Linked DNA regions of Homo sapiens. The protein of the gene in region 2 interacts with the protein of the main gene of each other region in a biochemical or structural test. Each region holds a gene or a part of one and is shown on either strand. Other genes may lie near its edges.

Evidence for each region.
Region 1: the proteins of SHC4 (region 2) and RET interact in a test that uses a peptide from one of them, tested with the Homo sapiens proteins (one study listed by BioGRID).
Region 3: the proteins of SHC4 (region 2) and TEK form a complex in vitro, tested with the Homo sapiens proteins (one study listed by BioGRID).

Annotation. Positions count from the first base shown.
Region 1 is NC_000010.11:43,122,069-43,130,508, reverse strand, and holds the end of RET (proto-oncogene tyrosine-protein kinase receptor Ret isoform a precursor), read right to left. Parts: intron 6,839-8,440; coding exon 6,701-6,838; intron 5,627-6,700; coding exon 5,527-5,626; intron 3,935-5,526; coding exon 3,787-3,934; coding exon of another isoform or gene 3,755-3,786; exon of another isoform or gene 2,398-3,754; coding exon 2,240-2,397; 3' UTR 992-2,239; coding exon of another isoform or gene 858-991; 3' UTR 158-857; downstream 1-157. UniProt on the Homo sapiens protein: Receptor tyrosine-protein kinase involved in numerous cellular mechanisms including cell proliferation, neuronal navigation, cell migration, and cell differentiation in response to glia cell line-derived growth family factors (GDNF, NRTN, ARTN, PSPN and GDF15).
Region 2 is NC_000015.10:48,822,689-48,828,807, reverse strand, and holds the end of SHC4 (SHC-transforming protein 4), read left to right. Parts: intron 1-2,681; coding exon 2,682-2,837; 3' UTR 2,838-5,067; downstream 5,068-6,119. UniProt on the Homo sapiens protein: Activates both Ras-dependent and Ras-independent migratory pathways in melanomas. Contributes to the early phases of agrin-induced tyrosine phosphorylation of CHRNB1.
Region 3 is NC_000009.12:27,104,520-27,113,193, reverse strand, and holds the start of TEK (angiopoietin-1 receptor isoform 1 precursor), read right to left. Parts: upstream 3,970-8,674; 5' UTR 3,604-3,969; coding exon 3,552-3,603; intron 1-3,551. UniProt on the Homo sapiens protein: Tyrosine-protein kinase that acts as a cell-surface receptor for ANGPT1, ANGPT2 and ANGPT4 and regulates angiogenesis, endothelial cell survival, proliferation, migration, adhesion and cell spreading, reorganization of the actin cytoskeleton, but also maintenance of vascular quiescence.

The DNA.
Region 1 (8,440 bases), on a different chromosome or scaffold from region 2:
GCGATATCTCCAGAGCCCCTAGTCCTCGACCACTATTGATGCCTCAGTGGTTATCATGATAGAATTCTTTGTGATGTTTTAAATATTGTATGGAAACTACAAAATCAGAAATCTGTTGTTTCCAACTAGAATGTTAAAAAGAAAAAAAGTTTACACATTTTATGATACATGATTTTATTTACACAACTGATTTTCTTAGTCACCTTGATTACAAAAAAAGGAACATGATCTGGTTTAATGACCTTTCATAAATAGATTTTACAAATTTTAATAACTGACAGATTACTACTTAATACTCAGTAATACTTAATACTTAGTAACTTCTGCATTTACGTGTATGAAAATTCCAGTAGAGCTAATAAGGATGGGGACTTTTATAACTCAGGAATAGACAATTAGGTTATTGGTCAAGGATAAATTGGTCAAGGATAAATTCCCCATCACTGGGTCAGCTGTTTAGACCTGGAGTTCTTACCCTCCTGAGAACAAACCTGTTGCAGCAATTCACACTTACTGTGTAGGCATTTTTAATAATTTGAGAAAGTTTATTCTTATTTCTGCATTTAGTAAGACTATCATTAAGCATATCTGAAAACCAAAAGTTTACCATGTCTATAGATATTTGTAAAAGAACTTATCACAGTGTATCTGAAAAACAGCCCAAATTAGAGCCAGGTTACGTGTCCAATAAGCATTTTTCAAACTCTCCCTCTGGGTGTGTGCGCACACACCACAAGGCTCTATTACACACGCATCCAAGCCTTGGCCTCACAAAATGCCACAATTTTGCTGTTTTTGTGAAATGCCTATATAAAATACAGTATTTGAATGAGACTATTTTAAGTCCTATCAGTGCTTTAAGTCTGAAGAGCAGGCAGTGTTTTGGTAATCCGACTCTTTTCTGCGAAGTTACAGTGCTGACAACACAGCCAGAAGAGCTGCTGAGACTTCCCAAAAGCTGCCCCCACAAGACTGGAGGAGTGTTGTGCATCTGTGACCACAAACAAGCAATGAAGAATGACAAGAAGCTTATGAGTCATGGTCAGAATCTAAGAAACAGAAACATCTTGTAGCAGCATTAAATTACAAACACAGGAAGAGCTGATCCATGGGCCTTTCACACAGGCTCTATAAGAGCCAAACACCATCTTTTTCACATCAGAATTGTAATCAGAGGTGTAGCAGTCCTTGGTCATTGTCATTGCTACTTCTAACACAGCTAGCTAGCCTGTCCCTTTATGAGTAAGTTGATAAGATTCAAATTAAAGTGAGTACAAGCCCTACCTGCTCCTAACAGGTAGGATGAGCCACTGCTTTCGCCTCTACTTGGCTGTGGGGTGTGCTGCAGGCTGGTGGCAGGTGGGATTCACAGCAGCAAAGCCTCTGCTGTCAGCAATTCTGGGACTCCAACAGCCCCCTTTCTTCATACTGTTCTCATCAGGGGTAGTGGCTGCTCAGTACCGAACACGTGAGGATGATGTGGTGGGCCCGGGGGACAAATGTGTCTTGTGAGCCCTCTTCCCTGATACCACCATCCACATAGTAAAGATGGCATGGAATCTCTCCATTGTGCTAAATCTAGGAATCATCTTAATCATGATGAAAACCAAATGTCTTCCTAAGGAAAGGTTGCATGATTTAAAAAAAATCATTCTCAAGATCTCGAATGCTGAGCCCAGGCCCATCCTCGGGGCCCCTCTTCCCCTCCAGCCCTGGAGGGGCATTGACACTACCCCCAGGCCCCCCCCGCAGTCTCTCATTCTGAATAAGGACAGGTCATCAGGGCCAGCATTTTTCCTACTGCCTTTTTTGTGTGTGTGCTTCATGTTTAAATTTTTTTGCCTTGTTTGGCGGCAACTAGAAAAATCCAACAGTTCAGGTCCAATTTCATACACCAGGTAGTAAGTGTTGGACCCACACATGTGAACACAGAATGTTGGTGGTCACTGATGGACACAGACCAACACTGGGTGCTGCTGGGCACTGAAGAGAAAGGAATGCTTAACCACTAAGACTCAGAGCTCTTACCCGGTGTGGCATGTCTGCTAGGAGGGAAAATCACCGGCTATCAGAAGTAAAACCACCTTGGAAGTTAAAACAAACTACCAAAAACGAGTCTGCCACCTGGGAACTGAACACGGCTCGGCCAATGTGACGTTCACAAAGAAAGGGCCGGTAGACTTTCCATTCTCAGCATGTTTCTTCCCCTTGTGAGTCCATTACCTTTCACAAAGAAATGTTAACTATCAAACGTGTCCATTAATTTTGCCGCTGAGGGTGAAAGCATCCAGTTAGCATATACACTATCATTTGGATATCTTGGAAACCCAGTGTTAGTGCCATCAGCTCTCGTGAGTGGTACAGGACTCTCTCCAGGCCAGTTCGGGTCTGACATGCCTAAAAATGAAAACAGATCATTTGTTCTGCACTGAAGAACCAAAACTTCAAGTGCAGACAGTAAGGCCTTGGCAAAACTCCCTTTGATGTTCAAACCAAACTCGTGGTTTCTGTGCCAATTATATTAATGGTTTTGTGTTCCAGGTTTCCAAAAACACTGTTATAGTTAGGGGAAATATCATGTGCTCTCTTGGTAAATGTAACTTAACAGACACTACCAATTTTGACTTTTATGAACTTGAGACTCTCTAATCTGATGTATATTTGTCGAACTGCTTAACTCTTTTTCTAAGGCAGTGTAGGGCAACAGCACACTGCTGCACTCAATGGCTTACTGCAGCGGAAACGTTCTATAAAACATTCTCTAACGTAAAGGAGGCACTCGTCTGTTGTCTGAGCCTACAACGGAGAAGAGGACCTTCCAAATCGAGGGTGCACACGGGCCAGCCTCATAGCATCGTCAGCACAAATGGAGTGTGGCACTAGACACAAAGCCAGTGAGGAGTCAGTGAGTCAGGAGGCATGCAAAAGGAACCGTCTCAGCTTGAAAAAAATGCTTGAAACTCCAAGATTTCAAACAATCAATGATGAAGTTAGGAAACAGAAAAAATTTCTAGTATTTAATCAAAGACAAAAGAAGGAGTTTTGGCAAGAACCATATTTACTGTCCATTGTAAGACCACAGCACCACAGACCATGTTCTTTCAAAAAGCAACTGCTCCAGCTTTAGCACTGACTTCATAAGTGACAACCGTCCTGAAGGTGGGTAAGGGAAAGGATGTGAAAACAGCAGTGGGGGTGCGTCCTCCCAGGGCCAGCCAGCTCCTGCAACCTCGCTACCCCTGATGGAGGACATGTGGCTGGGACTGGGGCTGAGGCTTGGCCAGTGGCTGCTCGCCAGTGCCGGGTGGCCTCTGAGAGGCACCTGCCTGCCCAGGAGGGGTCTGGGGGAACCTGGCTGTGCTCCCAGTGCAGGCTGAGTGGTGCTGGTGGCTCCTTTCTCAACTGAATACCTCCCCAGATTTGTATATTTATCCACTTAGTTAAAGTAGAAGTACTATGACTTGATTCCCACCCCAGAAGCGCCTTATTCAACCTGTTCTTGGTCTCCCCTGAGAGTTCCGCCCTGATCTGTTTTTTCCTCTACCATCCTAAGTTGCTGGGCAATGTGGTAATTACACTTATTTTCACATCCTTTTAGAAAAACATAGTTGCAATAATGCCTAAATGTAAACTGGATGCAAAGTCAGACATTTACAAATAAAAAGGTTCAGAGCAGACTTTGGTTTTGTTCAGACCAGAAACATTTTTAAAAAGCATCACAGAGAGGAAGGATAGTGCAAAGGGGACAGCGGTGCTAGAATCTAGTAAATGCATGGGAAATTCTACCATAGAGTTTGTTTTCAATCCATGTGGAAGGGAGGGCTCGAGGGAGGGGGGCATTATTACAGTCCACCAGCGGTGTCTCCTCCTCTGAGAGGCCGTCGTCATAAATCAGGGAGTCAGATGGAGTGGACGCCGCAAGGTCCAAGTAGTCCTGGAAGACAGAGATGGCCGGTCACTCCAAGCCATGTGCCACAACTAGATACAACTCAGTATACAACAAGCCATCCTCAGGGCAGAGGCTCTGGCTGTGTCTCCACCTCGCACCAATCTCCTGACCTCTCCAAGAGACCAGGGCCAGGCTGCATAGAGCTCCCAGGACTCCTGGCTGGCCTGGTCCTGCTCTGAGGTCCCCATCACTCCCCTGGGTGTTGTCTATTCTGTCTCTTCCCCTGGAAAGTCACCTCCCTGGGGAAAGAAATGTGCTCCCTCAGCGTCTTATCTCCAGGGCCTGGAGGGCAGCCTTGGGGGACGCCTCATCTAGCTGCCCCTGGCCCAACCCGGAGATGGGCAGCACGGAACCAGCCCGCTGACAAACCCTTGGGCTCTGGGGGAGCCCACTGCAGCCACATGCCAGGACGCAGCCCCAGCCTGCAGGATGTTTTCCAGCTTTCCCCAAGGACCCCTGCCATCTAGAACGTCACGTCAGGGCTGAGTTCTGAAATCTGACAGCGCTGTCAGGGTGCACAGGACCCTGCTACAGGCACGGGCTCCCCAGCACGAGGGGCCACTGGCGTCTGCTCCTTTCAATGCCCAGCTTGAATGTGCACAGAGGGGCCCAGCGTTTTCCCGGCTGTTTCTCAGCACTGTTCTAGGAAGGCCAGCACCAGTGATCGCTTCTGTTTTGAACAACGCTGCATTCTCAGGACTTGAAGTTTTCATCCAAGCGAGACAGTGATGTGAAGTTTTCCTATGGGGTCCTAGGTCCTGCATCCCGCTATCCAAGTCGGAAGAAGTGACAACTCAGTAAATGTGCCAATGTTAAGACAAGGCCTGTGTGTAAACCCCGTGAGGGCAGGGCTGTGCTGGTCTTGTTTATCTGCATTCCCAGCCTCTGAGACATAGTATGGGTCCTAGCAGCTGCCTGATGAATATTGGTTGAAAATGTGTAGACCTCACAAACTGTACTTCCAGGCACACAGGCTGACTCTGGCCACCCCCCGATATGCTTTGTTTGGCCTGCGTTCGGCTCTGGGAAATTTAAATGAATTGTTAACAATAAAAACTGGGAGACAACATAAACCTCATAAAATTCAGAAGACCCAGCCCATTCCTGGCTCCTTTTTCTGCAGGCCACAGGTACTCCAGCAAGGAACCCTTTGGAGGGGGCTGGCTGTTTGCCACAGTCTCCACTGCTCCTTACTCACTGCCCTCCTCCAGCCGGACCCCCCTCTGGGCATCTGAATTTTGGGCACTTGCTTTAACTCAACTTTCTCATTTTCCATTATGGAAAACTATTTCTTTTTGGCTTTGGAATATTTTCCTCCCATGCCTGTCTGTAGAGAGCTTTTCCTAAATGTCAAGAATCTTGGTTTCTTCATGACTTGAAAAGAAGCCCAAGCGGCCTGGCCTGAGAAGGGTTCAATCTGCTGTCTGCATGCAGGGGAGAGCATGACTCTCTCTCTCTGCACAATCCCACTGTGGCCCCACACTGGGAACTCTGAGGGCTAAAACTACTGCCCTGGGGTGAGGCTGGAGTCTCCCCAAGCCACTTTCAGCTTGTGGGAATTGGACCCAGGCACTCACTCTCCTCTTAACCATCATCTTCTCCAGGTCTTTGCTGATGTCCGCAAACACCGGCCTTTTGTCCGGCTCCTGCTTCCAGCATTGCAGCATCAGGCGGTACCTGGTGGGAAGAGCAGACAGGCCAATATGATCCAAGCAGGGCCAGGTCTCAGAAGGACAGCCCACCACAGCCATCGCACCCTGCCCTGTACCCTGGGCCCAGTGTGCTCTGTCTCCAACTCCAAAGCTATTTCTGCATCGCTGACATCTCTGAGCCTCGTGGGACTGGGGCATGGCCTGTTGCAGGATCCCAGCCCGTGGGCCACTGTGCTCAGGTCTCTCAGAGCTGTGGTCCAGAATCCTACAAGCTTCCCTTCCCTCCAAGGGAGATTCATTTTTACTTCCCTTGCAAAGACACTGGTAAACAGCTCACTGGATACTATGCTTGCTCTGGCAGCTAAGTGAGAAGTGCCAGTCCTTAAAACTCTCAAGAAGAATGAATTGATTGAGGGCTTTTAGGTGTGGAGACAGACAAACAAGAACCTTTGGCAATCACACGTCTGTCCTGCACCGTCCTTGCTTGCCTGGGTGCCCAGGCAGACCACAGCGCTCCAGCTGGCCACCAGCTGGGGGCCCAGGGAGGTGGTACCTGGCTTCTCGGCCCAGCATGCCCCCTCCACGCCCCAGCAGTGTGCACACTCTGTGGAATGCATGTACCATGCATCTCTGCCTCTGGGCAGCCCTTTCTCATCTGTTCTCAGCCTGGTTTCTAAGACCATCTCCCCTGAGAGTGTAAAGGTTTCAACCTCTCAGGTTGCAGCCCAGGCTGCCCCTGCCTGGCTCTGCACCTCCACTCAGGCACCCCTTAACACGTGCCCCCTGGGCCATCTGGAATTACCTTCTCCTCCCTAAGTGTCCTGCTGGGACAGCTCTCAGCCCTTGAGCTTGCATTGCACCAGTCTCTGCTCTCACTCATTTTTATAAGACCCCCTAGGAAGCCCACCAGCCCTCAGTGGGGTAGGACCCCCAGCATCTACTGCCACACCCAAGGATGGCTCTCTAACCTCTGCCCTGCCCACTCCCCACCCCCCACTTCTCCTGGTTTCTCCTGGGGCTGCTCTGGATGGGGAGGGAATGCACACAGATGTCCCCTCCCTTCCCAAGTGAGGCTGGGCCAAAGCCAGTCCCCGCTCACATCTCCTCGCTGCAGTTGTCTGGCCTCTCCATCCGGTGGCCGGTCTTCAGAAGGTTGAAGAGCCGCTCAGGAGGAATCCCAGGATAGGGGTTTCCCCCTAGGGTCACGATCTCCCACAGCAGGACACCAAAAGACCATCTGCAGAGAGTGAAAGGACCAGTGAGTGGCTCCACCTGGCCCTCACAGAGCCCTCCGGGGGGCCCAGATATCCACCCCCACCACCAAGCACCTGCTGACCCTGTCGGCTTCAAGCACAGATGCTCACAGATGTCAGCCTGGGTCTGGCTGCTCAGATGGATGTAGCATGAAGGTGGGGAAGGGCTGCCTGCCTGCCTGGCCCCTACTCCATGAAGCTGAAGTCCTTGCCCAAGCCACTCCCATCAGAGCAGCCACACGCACAAGGGACACATGAGGCTTAAGATGAATTCATGATTAATGAATTAATGATACATTAATTAATATCATGAATTAATCTTAATAATTCTTAAGATTCTCACACTTAAAGCGGTGAGAATGCAGGCCACCAGACTCAGAGTGCCTTGTATAGTTCTTTTGCCATTTCTATGTGCTTGGAAAATTTCATAAAATCTTAGAAGGAAAAAAAGCTATAGAAAAACATTTTAACTGTGAAGGAAAACTCGCTTTGCAATGGGAACAAAATCATATCACAAAACAGCATCGCATGAGCCCATTTAGGGCAATAAAAAGCATACATGTGCACACCACGGAGCACACCAGAGGGCAGCCAGAGGTCACTGGGCGGTGTGGTCCAATGACATTCAGTCTCTTCTTTATGCTTTTCTCTGCCTTTTCCAACTAGCCTACAGTCAGCTTATATAATCGGAAAGCTGTTGTCCAATTGCTTATTCACAGCCCACAGTATTTAAGATGCACATGTTGGCCAGGCGTGGTGGCTCTCGCCTGTAATCCCAGCACTTTGGGAGGCTGAGGTGGGTGGATCATTTGAGGTCAGGATTCAAGACCAGTGTGACCAACATGGTGAAACCCTGTCCCTACCAAAAAATACAAAAAAATGAGCCAGGCGAAGTAGCACGTGCCTGTAATCCCAGCTACTCAGGAGGCTGAGGCACAGGAATCGCTTGAACCCAGGAGGTGGAGGTTGCAGTGAGCCAGGATTGCGCCACTGCACTCCAACCTGGGTGACAGAGTGAGACCCTATCCCCTCCCCCCACAAAAAAAGAGAGGCACATCACACCTCTGCTGACTGTAGAACACTTTAGAGGCAAGAATCCTGTGTTTTAAAAGTGATCAGCTCTTGTCATTGGACCTGGAAGAATGAGATTTTGGCTTCCACCTTTGAGCAGTTTGGGGCACACCAATCTATAAACTCACACAAGGCCATCTTCAGGTGGAGTCCCCAAGCTCCACTTGTGGGTGGGGGCAAGTCACTGGGTGCTCTGCCTGAGCCCAAAGCCCTACTCAGGACCACAGGAGGGTAACTGCTGGGCTGGGCCTGAGTCACCAAGGGACCCAGAGGGAGGCATGGGACTAGCAAGGGTGGGGGAGGCTGGGTTACTGGCCACCTGCTCGGCTCTCATGCTCTACCGGAGCTTTCAGAACTGCAGCCCGGCCTGGCCCAGCCATTTGCCTCACGAACACATCATGAAGGCCCCTCAGTGAGGGGGTCATTGCAGAGGGCTAGCACTGCAGACAGGTGCTCAGGGCCAGTGCAATTCCCTGGCCAAGCTGCACAGACGGGCGTCGTGGCCCCACTACATG
Region 2 (6,119 bases):
GACCAAAAAATGACCAACGGGTATATGAAAACATGCTCAATCAACATCATTAATCATCAGGAAAATGCAAATCAAAACCACAGTGAGATAATACCTCACACTTGTTAAGATGGCCATTATTTTTTTAAAAAGAGGAAGAAAATAACAGGTGTTCGCAAGGATATGAAGAATTGGTGCCCTCGTGCACTATTGGTGGGTGTGTAAAATTGTACAGCCTCTATGGAACACAGTTTGGAGGTTTCTCGAAAAATTAAAAATAAAACTACCATATGATCTAGCAACCTCACTTCTGGGTAATTATCCAAAAGAACTGAAAGCAGGATCTTGAAAAGATGTTTGCACTCCCATGTTTATTGCAGCATTATTCACAATAGTCAAGAGGTGAAAACTAAGATCCACTAAACAATAAATGGATAAAGGAAATATGATAATATCCATATAGTGGAACACCATAGAACAACCATAGAAAAGAGGGAAATCCTGTCCTATGCTACAGTGTTCTCAAGGAAATGGGTAGTTGCTGTTTGATGGGTATAAAGTTTCAGTCATGCAAGATGAAAAAGTTCCAGAGATCTGCTGTATAACGTTGTACTTAACAGTTAACAATACTGTACTGTACACTTAAAAATCTGTTAAGTGTATAGTACAGTATTAACTGTTACATAACAGATGTATATATATATATATATATACACACACACACACACACACACATACATACATATGTAACAGATCTCATGTTATATGTTTCTTACCACAGTGAAAAATCTTGTGTGGGTGAAGTTACAAACACAAGTGTCTGCAGGACTAGGCCAGTACTGTAAGTGAATAAAGCTGGGCAGGGGATAGAGCGAGCATAAGGTACAGTGGGCTGTGTTAAAAAAGGCACATACCCTGTGTAAGGGGGCAGTCACCACTCAGCTCCAACCAAACGCTGTCATGCAGAGCAGAGGCCCAGTGGGACCAGATTTTATTTTTTTCAAATAAGTCATAAAACCAGAGTTTTATAGGAACTCTCCTTATTTTTAATTCAAAATAGTTGAAACTCTCTGTGCGTAACCTCCCCTCCCTATCCTAGCCCCTAGCAAACTAAAGCATACGGGGCATTCAGCCAGAGTGGCCTGCTTACAATCTCTGTACTTGAAAGATTAATTTCACACTTGTATACAGGATTGATTAAAGAGAAGGGGAAAGACCAGGGACAGAGAGAGTAATTAGAGGCTTCTAGGTAAAAAGTAGTGACAGCCTGAGGCAGAAGAAATACAAAGAAGAAGGCAGAGTGACTTGGCATTAAGAACATAGAATGGAAGGATTGGTCAGCTGATTTGGTGTGGGATGGGAATGAGATGGAGGAGTTGAAAACCTTTTTGAGGTTTGGAGCCATTTGAGAGCAAATTGGTGCCATTGTGTCCTCTTCTGTAAATCCTTGAATGTGTATTTCCTAAGAACAGAGATATTCTCTTCCATAGCCATAGTACAGAGATCAAAATCAGGAAACTTAACATTTGTACAATACTATCTAAGTCATAGTCCATATTCAAATTATATTAATTATTCCAGTAATTATGCATGATTTTAATACGGCAAAAACCAACATCTAGACAGAACTCCAAGAATCCCTTGTAGGAGAGCTGGCAGAAATACATAACGAGGTGCTGCCTTGTTGCATGCCTTCCCCTTTCCTGGATGGTTCCTAGCCACCCTCCAAACAGGAGCACTTGTATAACCAGGCCACCAAGCTGGTAGAGCCACAATGGATAGTAATGTACAGCTTCTGTCTATGCATAGGGTACTAGGAAGGGAATTCCATAGAAGGCATGCCATAAGAAAATTGAATTTCTTTGGCATGCCGACAGTAAGTTCCATGCAACAAATATCTGTGAATCAGCTACTATGAAGTCTGTGGGAAGGACACATGAATGCCTATTAGAAAGGTCTGAGGAGGCTTCTTGGAGAAGACAGGAATGCTGAGCCTCCAAAGAGAGATAGGAGGTAGGACTTCTCCAGAAAGGCCTGCTTCTGACAGAGACAAGGTGATATGGAAGCACTCTGGTTAACAGAAGATAATTACAATCCTGGGATTCATGCTTGTATACAAACCAGTTAAATAGTTATAGAGATAGTGACATAGAATATACCAAACAATAATACTGCAAAGAGGCTGATTGCAAATTTGGATTGGGTGACAAGTGCCTACCATTTTCCTAACTTATGGGAATGGTTGCTTTAAAATGGTAATGAGGAATGAGAAAATTGTTGACTAGGGACTACAGAGTTTAAAAGCACCTTTTCTCCTAGCCCTTTGGGAAGCCAAGGTGGGCATTGGCGCTCAGGAGTTTGAGACTAGCCTGGGCAACACGGTGAAACGCCATCTCTACTAAAATAAAAAAAATTAGCCAGGCATGGTGGCACGTGCCTGTAGTCCCAGTTACTCGGGCTGAAGCACTAGAATTGCGTGAACCCAGGAGGTGGAGGTTGCAGTGAGTCGAGATCGTGCCACTACACTCTAACCTGGGCCACAGAGTGACACTCTGTCTCAAAAAAAAAAAAAAAAGTACCTTTTCTTTTTTCAGCAAAGTATCTACTTTAGGGATATATCTGGCATTTTCCCCCTTATTATTTATATCTTTCAGGAGAACTACTATAATTTAACCTAAATATATTTGTACTTCTTTTTCAAGGTGAGGACCAAGGATCATGTATTTGATAATGTCGGCCACCTTATCAGATACCATATGGATAACAGTTTGCCAATCATCTCCTCTGGAAGCGAAGTAAGCCTTAAACAACCAGTGAGAAAAGATAATAATCCAGCACTTTTGCATTCCAACAAATGACAGTATTGAAGCACCATCACACTGATATTTCAAGAAACCCCATTTTGTATTAGGACACAAAGATAATTTAAACTTTGTTTGTAGATAAAATAGAGCACAAACTGTGAAGTGCATCTTTCCAAGACCATCATGGACCAGGTCCTCTATAAAATGAAGAACTAACAAAAATTAGTCTTCAGAAATGAAAATCAGAAAAGAGGAAGAGGGTTGGTCATTTTAAAAGAAATTATATGTATGCACGGATGTCACTTTTTAAGGCCATATTGCATTGATAACAAGCTAAAAGCACAACTAAAATTTCACATGCTAACGACAACTTGAATGAACTGCTGGGGCAGTGGTATGTGCCTTTCAACTTGATAATTTGGGGGACATTTTCATATTGGGAGATTAATTCTAAGTATCTTCATGTTCTATGACTATAGAACCATTTGCCAAAAAAAAAAGCTTTTCTTGCTACAAAAAATAAGCAATTTTCTTGAGCCTTATTGACTTTATTACATTTTCTGTTTAGCAGCATTTTTCACTGCAATGTTAAAATAAATATGACATTGAATTCGAACTGTGTGTATGTCAGTGGAATCAAATCAAAAGCCACTAACATGGCTGTCTGTTTCATTGGACTGTCCCATTTGCTGGTTAAAAGGATTGGGGCCCAAATCCTCTGGCCTAGCATTTCTCAGTGTTTGCTATTCAGACTGTCTAAATACAGCATGTGACAAGCTGAAGAAGCCAAATCTATCAGTCATTTCTGATTTCATTATATTCTCCCCCTCTTCCTGCTAAAAAGACAAAAAACAAAAAACAAAAAAAACAAAAAAAACCTCATGAGTGCATGGATTTAAAAGAGGGCAAACAAAACCAGTATTCTTCATATTTACTATTCAAATTGGTTTCATTCTTAGTAAAAGTACAGAATCTATTTGAAATTATAGTAAAATTTCTTCTTGATTGGCTGACACTGAATCATAGTTTCTCACCTACATATATCCTTAGCACCTCGTATAGATATGATCAGACAAAATGCAGAAGGAAAAAAAAACATATTGAATGAAGCACTTGGAAAGATTTTCCACATGTAGACCAACTGGTAAACTAACAGAGTGATTAAGCATGGTGTACAGAAAAGCATTACGCTGAGTCTTACCAGTGTGACCTTCAGCAAGTTGCTGAATCTGTTTGGGTTCCAGTTTCCTTGGCAATAAAATGAGCTAAATGGGCTAGGTGAATTTGGAGGACTACTTCAGTCCTAACTTATAGTATGAGTCTCTAAAAAGCAAGTTTTTCATTTGTTAGAGGTCGTTATTGATAACCAGTCTGTATAGTTAAGGTAAAAAATTAAGCTTTTCTTCTATAGTCTGTGTCCATACTCACAGAATGAATGGCACACCTGAGATCAACATTCACATAGTTTAGACTCCAAACCATTCAGTCTAAAATACTGAAACTTTGGAATATAGGGAATGATGATAAAAGTGGATTTGGTTTGAGTAGCAGAAAACTACTTATGTCCTTTTCTTGCCTTTCCAAGAAAAATGTTTTTTGTTTTTTTTTTTAATCTTGAGTTATCTGGATATTGCCTTGACTCCATTTCATTTTGGCTATGTAGATACAACTTAGTCTTTGTGATTGTGATATATTTGCTAAGTTTTAAATAAAACTTCTTTTGGATAGAAATCATTAGAAACCAAGCATACTGCACTCTAATATTTTACTGTAAAGGCTTATGATTTTTATTTCTACTGCCATTAATTTTTTAGATGGATTTGTTTCCTCTTACACAACTAGAATTAATGTATTTTTCACCAGTTTTCCATATACCTTAGGTCTTGATCGTTTGTCCTTAAAAAGGGGATCAGCATGAGTATAGACAGTAGAAATGTATGGGTAGTCTAACCACTTTTATCAGAGACAGAGCAGGGCTGTGGTCTCACTCTAGCTGAGCAGAGTATTAACTTGGTAGCAAGAGTTCCTGATACAAATAGATGCAATGACTGTAAATGGTGTCAGCAGTACACATGGATAATCAGTATTTGACTGTAATAGTATAGTAGTTAAATACAGCACTTAAAAATACCACAGACACAGTTAAAGCAAAAGGAAACAATAAAAGGAATGTCTGCATGCTATTTTAATCTCACATTCTTTATCTGTCTTAAAGTGGAAATCCATTTGCCTATAAATACCTGTAAACGACTTTAAAAAATAAATGATTATTGCTTTGTGACAATTGACAGAATATGTCTGATGTTTGGGATTTGGAAACTGTCATTTGTAAAATGTATCAGGGAAACACATTGGCTCAATCAAACTGGATAATTCAAGGTGAGTTTATTAAAGGGACTATTTACAAAGGTGTGGGCAGAGTTTAGGGAAATCAGGAGGGAGAATGCAGTGCCTTGGGGCCAATTAAGGGAGAAAGGGAAAGAACAGCTAACAGAATCTGGAGAGGGAGCTGTGTGCAAGGGCTGCCTTTTAGGAGCTGTGGCCTGTAGTGGAGGAATGCAATCAGCCCTGCTGACTCAACTAAGAGGCAGTGAGGGGCATTCATAACCCAACGTTTTTCTGCTCCCCCTATCTGTCTCCTGCTGGGATTCTCCAGTGGCCCAAGTAACTTGAAGACAGAGAGCAAGGGAGCTCCTTGATGCAGTTCTGGAGGTCAGCCTCCTGGGAACAGAGGAGGATGGAAAAGACTAGAGGGGGAGATCTGGAAGGGCAAATAAATGGAGTACATCTAGCACAGAGGACTTTGAAGAGAGTCAAGCTTCTAAAAGCATTAGAGAGGCTTTGGGTTAGCCAGTAAGGCAAAGCTAATTTGCAGAGAAATAAGTCCAGATTCTCAGGTAACCATAAATGAATTACAGCAAAAATGTCAACTTGTTACTATTATTAAAACTCAAGCTATATTTTGAAGCATTGGTTATTTTGCTCAAGAACAACTTCAAATGCATTTCAATCTTACAGAGATACTTTTAATCCCACCTTCATGTTTCTTGCAATTCCTTCTACTAATTTTGCCATTTTATTACTTGTAATTATATATGGAAAAGTAATGAACCTGACCCTGTTACCTTTTATGATTGGAATTATAGACCGACAAAAATTATAATATGAAATCACTATGTCAAACACATGTGAAATATACCATCTGCATCTGTGGAAAATATTTAAGTATCGACATATTAGTGTTAAAAATGAATTGTCTGTAGTTTGCCATAGTCTTACTAATGGGACAAACGGTTTTAGTCTGTGAATGAAAGAGAATTTATCACTACAGACTCT
Region 3 (8,674 bases), on a different chromosome or scaffold from region 2:
ATGTGGCTTAGAGAAATTAAATAACTTGCTTATGGTTATCCAAGTTGGGCTTTGACTTTGTAATCCATGTTTCCTCCTTCAGTTTGCCTGCTATGTTCGCTGTTAAATTTCTCAGGTCTTCAGTGCTTCATGGATGTGCTCTTAGCAGTAGATTTCAGTGAAGTGATTACCATTTCTGATTTGGACTTCATATTTCTGCTAATACAACATATGACAGCTTATGCAGTACCTTTTTAGCAAGCAGAGCCTATGTTGTCTTCCATGACTTTTGTGTATCCCCAAAACCTAGGTGTCATTCACAAGAACTTTCAACAAACCAGGTCTCTCCCACATTAAATATACATAACTTATTTCTTGAACCCAAACACAGAACCAGACATTTACCTATTTTGAAATGGTATCTTTTTGTTTTGGTTTTCCACCCTTCCAGCCTAGAACAATCTATTTAAATCCTGATTCTGTGAGCTCACCAGTAAGCCATCTACAGAGAATAAGCAGGTGATACAATCACACAGATATCCTTTGGGGAGATAGAGGCTCAGGAGGCAAACTGATAATTTCAGAAGAATTTAGAGCCCACCCACCTAAATTCCCCAGAGAACATCACATAGTCTTTTGAGATGAACTTAGAAGACTCCTTCCCTCCTGGAGAGACGCCTTGGAAGAACTAGACTCTTCCAGGAAGCTCTCCCAGGGCAGGGCTGAAAGGGAAATGCTGAGACCTAACAAACAATAAAGACAATGCTTGGAAGGGAGCATCTGTGAAAAAAGCAAGCTCCTCCCTCTGAGAATAATTCCAAAGGGTGTCTCCGATCCCAGCTTTCAGACCTCCACCCTTGATTACTCAGACTTGACACTAGCCTTCTGAGACCAGCCCTAACAAGGGGGTTTCATCTGGGAGCACTTCCCTGACCTTACAACTGTTTCCTCTGCCACCCCAGACAAGATGTCTGCTATCTCTGAATCCAGTTGTTATTTAAAATGTCAAGTGACAAGGGCGGGCGTGGTGGCTCATGCCTGTAATCCCAGCACTTTGGGAGGCCGAGGCGGGCGGATCACTTGGGGTCAGGAGTTCGAGACCAGCCTGGCCAACATGGTGAAACCCCGTCTCTACTAAAAATACAACAAATTAGCCAGGCATGGTGGCGCACGCCTGTAGTCCCAGCTACTCGAGAGGCTGAGGCACAGAATCACGTGAACCTGGGAGGCGGAGGTTGCAGTGATCTGAGATCACTCTACTACATTCTAGTCTGGGTGACAGAGCGAGACTCCATCTCAAAAAAAAAAAAAAAAAAGTCAAGTGACACAGTAAAGAGGTATGAAAGCATGAGACTAGAGACTTCCTATTAGATCATTGTTGATCACGTAGAAGATACTATGATAAATCACAGTGATTTTTTTGTTAGTTTTCTACATATACAACTTTTTAAAGAGAACAGCCTGGTTTTATGAGGAAGAGTAGGGAAAAGCTAATATAATAGAACCTGTTTGAAAGCTGAAGTTAGCAATGATTCTCAATTCAGAAAAGGAAAGCAACAGAATCTAGGAGTATTTGTAAGGAGCTTCTGAGAGCTACACATCCCCTCCAGCCCTCTTATGGGTAAACAACTCTGTCATCCAGAGCCACCTTCACTAAAAAAAAGTGGCTTTTTTTTTTTTTCAGTCTGTGGGTTCAGAAAAAAGAAACAAGAAACAACCCACTGGACTAGAGAGATAAACCTTTAAGCCATAAGCCCCTTGCTCCACTGCTTTAGTCTACCAGGAGTTTGACTAGAGGAACGGGCTCCTATGGCTGTGGACATTATCTAGCTGGATTCTTGTTGCAATTATCAAGCCTTGAGCAGTCATGCTCATGGAGGCTTAGACTAGGAATGCAAGCTACGATCAAGACAACAGACCTACCTCAGAAACTAACCTTGCTAGTGTCACCCTTCCTAACAAGAACATGAACCTACTTCCTCTCCTTGGTCCTCTGCCTTTTAAAGGCAGTGCTGTTTTTTCCAGGGATCTGAGGTCTAGACATGGAACAAGTATTTTGGCTACATACCTTTTTGTTTGATTTTATGACAATTCTTCTAAGCCTGTATTGCAAAGTGCTATAACACAGTTGCTTTAGGAGTAAAAAAAGTGAATGAAAACAGTTGTGTGTGTATTAACCTACAAAGTACCTCAGAGAAACTATAGACACCTGGGCTTCACATCACTATAATCCCTGGTATAGAGTAAGTTCCAGATTTCATGTCACTGGTAAATAATGGCACTCAGAAAAAAAAAAATCAAAAATGGAATCATGATAATTATTTGAAGTACATATTATTGGAGAAGTCAACATTATTTAAACAATTTCCACATAAATACTGAAGCCACCTAAAATCTTTTAATTTTTAGCAACTTGTGTTACACATTCTTAAAGAATATTATTAAATTCTCAAAATATTGGTTGTTGAGAGCTATAAAACAAACTGTATTCAACTCAGTTATTTCATTGGATTTGTTTTTTGAATATTTAATAAAATAGTTCAAACACCTAGAAAATATAGCAGATACTTATGTATACTCGAATCAAATTATATTAATATGCCCTATATCCATGAAGTTTAGTGAATTTTCCCAAATTCATCTCCAATATCAATTCGATTTTCGTTATTAAAATTAGAATGTTTTCAAACCGAAGGGGAGAGACTGATGGCAATGATAAATGTATTTGTGATATGTAGTTCAGGTTTGGATACTGCCTTCTACCTATGTCACATAGGCTGAGTGAGCTACAGAGGCACACCACTATCTGGAGTATCTAAGCAATAAACACGCTGAACCCAACACACTGGCCAACCACTCCTTCACTCTACAACAGGCTTCATATACTCTCCTGTGTTAAAGATTTTGGTAACTGCCTAAATTTTTGTTTCATTGGGCCAGTAAACCCTTTATGAATTACTACATGGCAAACATTTTTTAAAATAAAACAAAAATTCTAATAGCCCCAATCTCCCTGACCCTAACTACAAGAAAAAAAAAAAAGCCTACAATTTCATTGCTTTGCTTAAAATAGGATGTAGATATAAAATCTTTTTACAGAAAAGCATCTTTGTTCCCTTTTAACAGTGACAATCTATACACTGCCTTAATTGGGCCCCTGTATTTCTCAGCATGAATTTCATTTTTTACTGAAGATTTTCTTTAAAGCAGGTAAAACCGGTTTGTTCTTTAAAAAAAAAATCAATAAGAAAAACACTCCAGAATGAGGAGCAGGAAAATAATGCATGATAGTAAGGGGATCTCTTCAAATAAGATGATTTAATCGGTCCTCAAAGAGTTTCTAACACAGGGGCCAATCACCCAGAAGACAAACTAGCAAAATCAGTTCATGCCACAGAGCCTTTGCATTTCAATCCTTCCACACATATTGACTGGAGACTCACAGAGAAATGGTGCCTTTGCTACAGCCACCCCTTGTTCATCAGCACTGATGAGATTTGGGGAGAGCACCCAGAAATCACTAACTCTGTTTTTTAAAATACTAAATTAAAAAAAATAAAGCCAAACCTTACCAGAAAGGAGCAAGCTGACTCCACAGAGAACTAAGCTGGCTAAAGAGTCCATGCTTCCCCAAATCTCTCCATCCAGTTTCCACAAATGTGCATGAGGTCCCAAGGATCCTTTCAAAAACCCAGCGGTTTGTGACTTTCCATTAGCATCGTCCTACTACGTCTTGTTTACAAGTTAGAGGCAAGAAGGAACAGCACAGAAGCAGGCTGTAACAGTCTCATTTCTGTCTGAGCACAGGGAGTTTTAAGTTCCTTTTTCCTGTTTCCTTTGTAGATTAGGATGGGAAAGGCTGTATCTTAAAGGCATTTGGTATCAGCAGGGCTGGGGGCACTCAAGCCCTATCCATCTCGCAATTCATCAAAACACTTATCTGTTGCTGTTGCTTCTGCTGCTGCTTTTGCTGCTGCTGTAGGGGCAGAGGAATTTTTGTTGGAAGTGTGGGTCCCGGTCAGCATTTTCAGAAACAATAGGGGTATCCTCTCATAGGCGGGAAACTGAGAATAACAAGCCCTCCACCTATGTATGGTATGCGATGATGACCAATCCTTCTCAGACTTCTAACAGCTCTCCCGGGGCTACTGGGATCTCTGACAGAAGGAGCTTTTGGGTGTGGGAAGCCGTTTTGGCTTTTGTTTTCTCATTTTAACCCACATGGTTTGAATTGGGAGAAGAAGGTTTCCGTGATGAGAAAATACAACCTGAAAAGCAATTAATTTCAGTGAGCACCGGTGAGGTCAATGCTCAATGTAGCCCCAAGAGACCAGAGTCCAAAATTGTTAGCCTGTTTTCTTTCACACAGATGGCCTGTTGGTTGGCCATTAGCCCAAAGATACCCATGTTGCCGGCTATAGCTTTAATTTTCATTAACAATTCATCTAAAGGTGATCAAATTTCTTGAAGAAGTTGGCATAGAAGGATTTTGGTAATGAGAAAGATTTGGTAGTCATTGAGCAATGGTGTTTCAGAAGCAAATTATATATAACATTTAAAAACTAATCTGTGTAAAAACACAAACATACAGGATTAGATTGGGATAAAAATGGTGCTCATGAGAGCAAAGAGAGTTCATGGACCAAAATGAAAATAGCCATGGAATGTACAATATCTAGAATGAGGTCAGAGACCCTACACTTATCCAGATAATTACTCCACAATATGAATTATGACATTAGATTAGAGAGTATACACTTTGCTCATCATCGACCTTCATGCCTGAGGAAATCATTATACTCCTCCTTTTCCTACCCACCAGAGGAAAAGGCAGATGCAGCTAGTCTTGACTAATTTCTGTCCCAGGTTTTATCACATCGATGATGATCTTAAGAACCAATTAATGTTTCCAGTTTGCAGGTGTGAAAAAGCCCAGGTTCTGTCTGCAAACAGAACTGGGTTCAAATACTGGCTCAGCCACATGTGTAGCTGAGAAAAGTTACTTAGTCTTTTTGAGCCTCAGTTTCAACAGCTGTGAAATGGCAAAAATATCTCCTTCCCAGGTGTTTTGAGAGGAATAAATGAGGTTTAAAAATATAAAACCATTTGGTACTATGCCTAGTTCTTTGAAGGTTCTCATTAAATGTTAATAAGTTTATTTTCTTTCATCTTTCCATTCAGTCTCAATTTAAATTCCAAGAGCTTCTACTAAAAAGCTATTTTCTATTCCTATGAGATGACTTTAAATTTGTCATCACGAAAAAAAAAAACAAAAACAGTGGGCCTGGCACAGTGGCTCACGCCTATAATCCCAGCACTTTGGGAGTGGATCACCTGAGGTCAGGAGTTTGAGACCAGCCTGGCCAACATGGCAAAACCCCATCTCTACTAAAAATACAAAATTTAGCTGTGCTTGCTGGCGTGCACCTGTAACCCCAGCTACTCTGGAGGCTGAGGCAGGAGAATTGTTTGAACCTGGGAGGCAGAGGTTGCAGTGAGCCGAGATCGTGCCACTGCACTCCAGCCTGGGTGACAGAGCAAGACTCTGTCTAAAAAAAAAAAAAAAAAAAAGAAAAAAAAGAAAGAAAAATGAAGTTCCACACAGGCTAAGTTACTTGCTCTGCTGTGAGTAGCAGAGGTAATAATATCTGAATCCTGAGCTCTGGACCTCCAATTTTTCCCTTGTTTCATAGTTGAAAAGTAGATCAAGAGTAATGTAGGACATCACAAACACCAGCAGGGTACACCTAGACCTTACAGAAGTATTTGAAATGAAACTTTGACAGATAAGAATAGTTTGGTGACACTGAGAAGTGCGGTCAGTTCTTAGTGTGCTTCTGAAATAACTAATGTCAGGATCGGTGGGTGCTGTATTAATTCACTTCAGGAAAATGAAAGGGGCCTCCTCATGAGTCAAGCTCATTCCATTTAATTTGATTTTTCCAGACATACCTACAGTAAAAGCATAAAGAAAACCAAACCAAACTAAACAAACAAACAAGGCTCTTGGCTGATTCTTCATTTTCTATTTCCTGCTTTTTGCACTCAATACATGAAAAACACTATAGACAACATTAAAAGTCTTTGAGACTAATTAACAAAGGTATCAATAGATAACAAAACGGTTTTTCTGAAAGAGGTGGAAAATAACTTACATAATACTACTATACACTGGTATCACATGTCAAGAGGTCAACATCACAAACACAAAGCAAAAGCCTTGTATGCATACCCTTTGGCCCAGAAAATCCAGTTTTTTTTTTTTTTGAAATAGAGTCTCACTCTGTCGCCCAGGCTGGAGTGCAGTGGCACTATCTCGGCTCACTGCAACGTCCGCCTCCTGGGTTCAAGCGATTCTCCTGCCTCAGCCTCCTGAGTAGCTGGAATTACAGGCGTGCACCACCACACCCGGCTAATTTTTATACTTTTTAGTAGAGATGGGGTTTCACCATATTGGCCAGGATGGTCTTGAACTCCTAACCTCATGATCCACCCCCCCCCCCCCTTGGCCTCCCAAAGTGCTGGGATTACAGGTGTAAGCCACTGCGCCCCACCAGAAAATCCATTTTTATGATATACACCAAGCCAAAATCAAATATGTGCCCCCAAATTTGTGTATAAGGACATTATAGAAGCATAGTTGATAATAATCAAAGCCTAGAAATAATCAAAATGGTCAACAAAAATGGATTATTTATTAAAAATCATGGTATACAATGAAGTTCCAGACAAGTGTTCAAATACTATGGTGAAATCAGATTGACATAAAAAGATGTGAAAATGTTTATGGTATACTGTTGATTGGGAAAAAAACACAATTTAAACAGAATGAAATTTATACACACTGAAATACACACCACAGATATACAACAAATAAATATCAAAGCGTTGAAAGTGACTATTTCTGAGTTGTTGGAAAACATAATTTTTATTTTCTTTTTTATACTTTTCTATAATTTTAACACTTTTAGAAATAACGAACATATATGTAAAAATGAAGAAGACTGAGGGGACGTCCTTGAGAAAGTTGACCCAGGGCAATAGGATGTATACTTTAAAACATCCACTGGCAAATAAGAAACAGAATCCAGGCTACCATATGACCCAGCAATCCCACTGCTGGGTATACACACCAAAGAAAGGAAATAAGTACATCAAAAATACATTTACACTCCCATATTTGCTGCACCACTGTTTACAATACCTAAGATATGGAAGCAACGTAAGTGTCCATCAATAGATGAATGGATAAAGAAAATGTGGAACATCTACACAGCAGAGTACTATTCGGCCATAAAAAAGAATAACATCCTGTCATTTGCAACAACATGGATGGAACTGGAGGTCATTATGTTAAGTGAAATAAGCCAGACACAGAAAGACAAACATCACATGTTCTCATTTATTTGTGGGATCTAAAAATCAAAACAATTGAACTCAGGGAGATGGAGAGTAGAAGATGGTTACCAGAGACTGAGAAGTGTTGTGGGAGGGTGGGGGAGGTGGTGAGGATGGTTAATGGGGACAAAAAAAGCTACTTAGAAATAATGAATAACACCTACTATTTGATAGCACAACGGGGTGACTATAGGCAATAATGACTTCATTGTATATTTTAAAATAATGTAATTGCATTGCTCATGACACAAAGGATAAATGCTCGAAGGGATGGATACCACCACATTCTCCATGATGTGGTTATTTCACATTGCATACCTGTATCAAAACATCTCATGTACCCCATAAATATATACACACCTGCTATGTACCTACAAAAATTTAAAATTAATAAATTAATAAAATAGGATAATTTTAAAAAGAAACAGAATCCAGATACATAAAGTGTGGCCTCCAGGAGGTGACCAAGAAGATGGGGTGTCAGCCACCTACAGTACAGCCCGGACATTCTGTCTTTCACTGGTCTGTGGGCACTGAGCCACCAGAGCCATCCCATCTGACTTCTTAAGGACATTAATGAACTTTTTTGTGAACCCACTGTACATAACAGTGGCTAGCAGAAAAGGAAGGGTCAGGCTAGGCATGGTGGCTCACGCTTATAATCTCAACACTTTGGGAGGCCAAGGAGGGCGGATCACGAGGTCAGGAGTTCGAGACCAGCCTGATCAACATGGTGAAACCGTGTCTCTACTAAAAATACAAAAATTAGCCAGGCATGGTGGTATGTGCCTGTAGTCCCAGCTACTCAGGAGGCTCAGGAGAATTGCTTGAACTTGGGAGGCGGAGGTTTCAGTGAGCCGAGATCACACCATTGCACTCCAGCCTGTGGGATGGAGTGAGACTCCATCTCAAAAAAAAAAAAAAAAAAAGAAAAGGAAGGGTCATCAACAATTAAGTTTTGGCCTTCAGCCAGGACACCACAGTTAAAGGGACAACATCCACTCTGGTTTGGCTGTGGAAAATACCTGACCCTCTCCAAACCCCATTTACTCTAAACCCTCTCAGCTATTGCAGCATTTTTCTTTTTCTTTTGTTAACATTGAAACGGCAAGGACTATATTATTCACCGTAGGAAGAGACACAGAAATAGAAGATGTTGTCTCTGCTTTTGAAGCTCATAATTACAAAATCCCAGCGTGGTGGCACTGCATCAAAACAGGAAAAGTTAAATCACAAAATCAGGCATTGTGCTGTTGAATACCAAAGGGTGGTACAAGGAATAAAGTTCTAGCAGTTG